Linked DNA regions of Homo sapiens: region 1 is linked to region 2. The links come from fine-mapping of genetic effects on gene expression. A gene starts in region 2. The other region holds a variant in brackets. All regions are shown on one strand. Distances are between the middles of the regions. Region 1 has its middle 28 kb from the start of PIK3AP1. Region 2 holds the start of PIK3AP1 (phosphoinositide-3-kinase adaptor protein 1).

What was found. PIP is the estimated chance that this variant, and not a neighbour inherited with it, causes the effect.
Region 1: its variant is fine-mapped to the expression of PIK3AP1 in whole blood (INTERVAL, PIP 0.98).

What each region holds. Positions count from the first base shown.
Region 1 is chr10:96,747,159-96,750,062 of GRCh38, reverse strand. No RefSeq gene overlaps it. Among named protein-coding and RNA genes, the nearest start is that of PIK3AP1, 28 kb to the right of the region's middle. The variant T/G (reference allele first, on the strand shown) is at 1,783.
Region 2 is chr10:96,719,105-96,722,008 of GRCh38, reverse strand. PIK3AP1 (phosphoinositide-3-kinase adaptor protein 1) reads left to right here and starts at 1,495. Exons shown (of 17, transcript NM_152309.3): 1 at 1,495-1,627. The coding sequence starts at 1,615. RefSeq lists enhancers at 904-1,013, 1,864-1,973 and silencers at 1,134-1,433, 1,484-1,733.

The DNA.
Region 1 (2,904 bases), 28 kb before region 2:
GCAATCTTGGCTCACTGCAACCTCCGCCTCCCTGGTTCAAGAGATTCTCCTGCCTCGGCCTCCCAAATAGCTGGGATTATAGGTGCCTGCAACCACGTCCGGCTACTTTTTGTATTTTTAGTAGAGACCAGGTCCATGTTGGCCAGGCAGGTCTCGAACTCCTGACCTCAAGCTATTCGCCCGCCTCGGCCTCCCAAAGTGCTGGGATTATAGGGATGAGCTGCTGCACCTGGCCTCATCCATGTTTTGTGTACATCAATAGTGCATCCTTTTTATTACTGATTAGTTAGTATTCCATTGTAAGAATGTTTTTATTTTTAATTTTTATTTTATTTATTTATTTATTGAGACAGAGGCTCACTCTATTACATAGGTGGAGTGCAGTGACACAATCTTGGCTTACTGCAGCTTCTGCCTCCCAGGTTCAAGCAATTCTCATGCCTCAGCCTCCCGAGTAGCTGGGATTACAGGTGCACACCACCAAGCCTGCTAATTTTCAGTAGAGACGGGGTTTTGCCATGTTGGCCAGGCTGGTCTTGAACTCCTGATCTCAAGTGATCCGCCCGCCTTGGCCTCCCAAAGTGTTGGGATTACAGGCGTGAGCCACTGCACCCAGCCTGTTGTAAGAATATATCAGTTTTTTAATCTGATGAACATTTGGGTTGTTTCCAGCCTGAGCTATTATGAATAAGGCTGCTGTGAACATTCATGTATAAGTCATTGTGTGAATACAGGTTTTCATTTATCTAGGAGTGGACTGGCTGGCTCGTGTGTTGTTTATTTAACTTTATAAGAAACTTACCAAACTAATTTTCAAAATGGTTGTACCATTTTGCATCTCTACCTGTAGTGTGGATTAAGGCCTAACTTCTGCTTTCACAAAGGTCATCATCCCCAGAATAGAGCCCGGTCCACCTCTCCCAATCTTTTCTTTCTTTGTTTTCTTCTCTTTGCCTTTCTTTTTTTCTTTCTTTTCTTTTTTTTTTTTTTTTTCTGAGATAGCATCTTGCTCTGTCACCCAGGCTGCAGTGCAGTGGTATGATCAGAGTTCACTGCAGCCTGAACCTCCCAGGTGCAAGTCATCTTCCTGCCTCCACCTCTCAAGTAGCTGGGACCACAGGTGAATGCCACCATGCCCAGCTTATATTTATTTATTTATTTGAGACAGAGTCTCTCTCTGTCACCTAGGCTGGAGTGCAGTGGTATGATCTCAGCTCACTGCAACCTCTGCCTCCCGGGTTCAAGTGATTGTCATGCCTCTGCCTTCTAAGTAGCTGAGATTACAAGTGTGCGCCACCACGCCCAGCTAATTTTTGTATTTTTAGTAGAGACGGGTTTTCATCATATTGGTCAGTCTGGTCTTGAACTCCTGACCTCAAATGATCTGCCCGCATTGGCCTCCCAAAGTGCGGGAATTACAGGTGGGAGCCACTGCGCCTGGCTCCAGCTAATTTATTTTTATTTTCTGTAAAGACAGAGTCTTGCTATGTTTTCCAGGCGAATCTTTGCTTTTCTATGAATGAGTGGGTGCCTAAGTTTGAGAGAAGGAAGTGGGGGTGAGGGGTGGGGTTGTCCATAGAGTATGCTGAGTTTTACGGCAGCCCCGTCTGTGGGCATTTCCTGGGCAGGGCAGTGGCATCTGACCCTTTCAGACCATGGGGCAACAGCTCCAAATTCTCACCTTGGTGGTTGATTCATCAAGTACTGAACAAAGGAAAATACTAAAAGATTATTGAAAGGGGAAGTGGCTAGAATGGGCCCATTGTCACGTGTGTGAATGAC[T/G]CTTTGTGCTTGTCTTTTACCAGATGGGAATCCTTATCTGCTTTCTGTTTTCGATATTTGTCAGAGAAATGTGTCTAGGGCTTCATCCTTTCCCTTCCCATAACCTTTTACCTCAGGTTGCAGCCAAAGAGGAAGCAGAAGTTCTGCTGTCAAAAGGGGAAGAAGAAAAGGTAATGGTGACTCTCCCCAGACAATAAAAACTCACATAAAACTGGTTTAAAAGTAACACAGCCTAGTGAAGCCAGACTCACCGACAGAGCCTGGGTCTTCAGCAGTTAGACAAGTTGGCCAGGAGCACACCAGGGCAGTTGGGAGCAGGGAGAGCAGACAGCCCTTTACTGCCATCCCCTTCAAAGATGCCCAAGGACATGCCCAGCCCAGGCTGGTCCACTGACAGCAGTGGGGATGGAAAGGCCCATGGCTTTCTGAGGGTTCATTTACCTCCCAGGCTGTCTGAGCATCTGGACTTTTCCCTCTGTCCTTCCTTCCACAGGCAGCGCTTCCAGGAGCACTCCCTGGTAAGCATGCATCGCACACACATAATTGCTTTTTTTTGTTTGAGAGAGGGTCTCACTTGGTTGCCTGCGCTGGAGTGCAGTGGTGTGATCACGGCTCACTGCAGCCTCGACCTCCTGGGCTCAAGCAATCCTTCCACCTCAGCCTCCCGAATAGCTAGGACTACAGGTATGTACCACCATACCCAGCTAATTTTTCTATTTTTTTTTTTTAAAGATGGAATTTCGCTCTTGTTGCCCAGGCTGGAGTGCAGTGGTCCAATCTCCGCTCACTGCAACCTCTGCCTCCCAGGTTCAACCAATTCTGCCTCAGCCTCCTGAGTAGCTGGGATTACAGGCATCCACCACCACATCCAGCTAATTTTTGTATTTTTGTATTTTTTTAAGTAGAGATGGGGTTTCATCATGTTGGCCAGGCTGGTCTCGAACTTCTGACCTCAGGTGATCCACCTGCCTTGGCCTCCCAAAGTGCAGGGATTACAGGTGTGAGCCACTGCACCAGGCCAATTTTTGTATTTTTTGTGGAGATGGGGTTTTGCCATGTTGCCCAGGCTGGTCTCGAACTTCTGGGCTTAAGTGATCTGCCCGCCTTGGCCTCCCAAAGTGC
Region 2 (2,904 bases):
TACGCCCGGCTAATTTTTTGTATTTTTAGTAGCGACGGGGTTTCACCGTTTTAGCTGGGATGGTCTCGATCTCCTGACCTCGTGATCCGCCCGCCTCGGCCTCCCAAAGTGCTGGGATTACAGGCGTGAGCCACCGCGCCCGGCCACTAGGATCCTTAAAACTGGAAGAGGGAGACAGAAGAGAGTCAGAGAAAGGGATATGATGACAGAAGCAGGGCCATCTGGCTTTGAAGATAGAACAAGGAGGCCATGAGCCAAGGAATGTGGATGGCTTCTAGAAGCTGAAAGAGCCAAGGAAATTGATTCCCTTCTATTTGGCAGAAAGAAACCCAGCCCAGCCACCACCTTGATTTTAGCCGATGGAGACTCATGTCACACTTCTGAGCTACAGAACTGTAAAATGATAAGTTGGTGTTGTTTTAAGCCACTAAATTTGTAGTAATTTATTATGGCAACAGAAGAAAATGAATGCACGGCCTCATCCTGATATTCCCGTTCTTAAATCCATTTCATTTTATTTCCACCTGGACTTCAGCCCTAACCTTGCCTCATCTCTGCTCTCTGGGTCCATCTTCTGGCCCCTGGATTGTTGAGAACTCCAAGGGGATGTGCTATTCAGTTGAATTTCGGCAGCAGGCAAAGGGAGGAGTCCAAGAAGAGGGCAGGTGAAGGCAAGGGTTAAGCAAGAGTTCTAGCTCTGGAAGCAGACTGGCTTGGTACTGAACCTCCGGGAGCTTTTGTTCTCTGTGGAAGCCTGAGCAAGGTATTTGGCTTGTTTCTTTGGCTCCAATGTAAAGACAGTGATAGGTGCTACCTCAGAAGGTTGCTGTGAGGATGCAATGCGATAATGTGTGTAAGGTGCTAAACGCAGCGCCCAGCAGACAGGAACACAGGAAATGAATGGCAGAGAAACTCTATTAGACATTTATCATGTGACATTATAATTAATGTTCATGTGCCATCAGGAGACCAGATCCAAGGAACGGCAGAAAGATCACAGGAGGGCACTCAAGGGCAACGCCGAGCACCCAGGGCCAGGTGCCCAGCCCTCCTCCTCTTCCCCTTCCTGTCCCCTCCCCTTTCCTGCTGGGGCAGCAGGGGCTTAGGGACAAAGCCCCAGGCGATGAGGAGGTGGCTTGGACAGCTGGTGCTCACACACACACACACCCCCGCCCTGTCTCCCAGAGGCCTGGCAGCCCCACACTCTCCCCCTCCGCCTCCTCCCCACACCCCCTCCACCTCGGGCTGCCCTTTGGTGGCAGATCAGGGCTGGTTTCCCGAGGAGTGGGGCGCACGTGGCGCGAAGCCCCCGCCTTCTCGCTGCCCCTGAGCAGGGGGCCGTGGGGGGAGCTGGCCGGCGGCCGGCATGGGGTTCTCACTTCCCCTCCCCAACGGCCGCGGGTGCAGGTGCCGCGGGCCGAGTCCCGCAGGCGGGGCGGACTCTGTGGACACGCCCTCGTGGCGAGGCCGGGCTGCCCTGAGGGAGGAAGCGCCAGAGCGGCGGCCGGTCCCGCGCGGAGCCCGGCGCCCCTCCAGCCCGAGCCAGGACGCCGCCGGCCCCGGTCCCGGCCCCGGGCACGCAGCGAGCCAGGGATGTGAGCGGCGCCCCGCGGCATGGCAGCCTCAGGTGGGTAGGCAGGCGCCGCGGGTCCCCGGGCTCCCGGCCCCTCTCTCGTACCCCGCATCCCTTGAGGCGCGCTCCCCCGCTTGCTTCTGTTTGCGTCCTCTGTGCGGGGATCTTGCCCTCTTTCTGCTCTTTTCTATGTTCCCTGTCGCAAACTTCCCACTCCAACTTTCCCACGTTTCCCGTCCCAGCCTGTGGCGCGATTCTCTTCAGCCCCTGCCTGGCCCGACCCCCTCCCACTTCTTCAGGGTCTCCTTCGCTCCCTCCACCTCTGGCCCTAGGAGTGTCTGAGCGTCGCTTCCCCTGTCCCTCCGACTCTGAAGCGAGAGGCGAGTTGAGAGAAGCGGAGGGCGGGCGATGTGGATGGTCTACAGGGCCAAACGCGTCTCCTGGGCTCCGTGGACCCACAGGGGGCGCTCAGGCAGTCCTAGGTGGTGCGGAGAGATCAGCCGGGGAGGCCCTTGGGACAGTTCCCCAAGCCCCGTTCCTCCACCCCTCCCAGGCTTTGTGTTTTGGGTCTAGAACTTTGCTAGGGATCTAGGAACACTATTCCTTGAACTTTACTTTTCCTGCGTCCTTTGCAGAACTTTGGGGAATGGGGAGAGTTGGCGGTCACTGGGTAAATGTACTCATCAAAGGGTGCCAAGCGTCTTTTCTGGCTGGTCTTGGGTTGCCTTCTGGTTCATGGGTGTACACACTTGGCAAGTCGCTCACTGACGGAGATCCAGGACAAGCCACATAATGATGATAACGGAGACAATTAATGAGTCCTTACTATTGCACTCCAATGGATACTGTGCACCTAATATGTTCTCCATGGTGGGCAGGAAACACCTAGTCTCTGCTCTCCAGGAGTTTATGGTCCTGTAGAGGAAAGCAATAAGTAAACAAGGAATTACTAGATGAGAGGAGGTAGAGTTACAGTGTTTACAAATGGGTTTACTTGTATTTTCCCAGCCCACTTTATGATGTTTTAGTAGGGATAACCTGTGAAAACAGGTTGCAGGTGCCCCTTGAAAAAGAAAATCTAGGTGGCCAGGAGAAGGCACTGTTCTTACAGGAGGTGAGCAAACACTGGAATGAAGAGCCAGCTCTCCCCAGATCCTCTGAGGGTCTGGTAAGGGTGCTTCGGAAGCAGAGGTAGAAAAGGCCAGGAGTGATTGTTCCATGTACTACAGGCTCATTAAAGGGGATGGGAAGGTAGTTAATCACAGCCTCCTGGCTCTCCAGCTGGGCTCTGGAGGCTAAAAGAAGCTGTGTTGTGAATAAGGAGGCCTAGT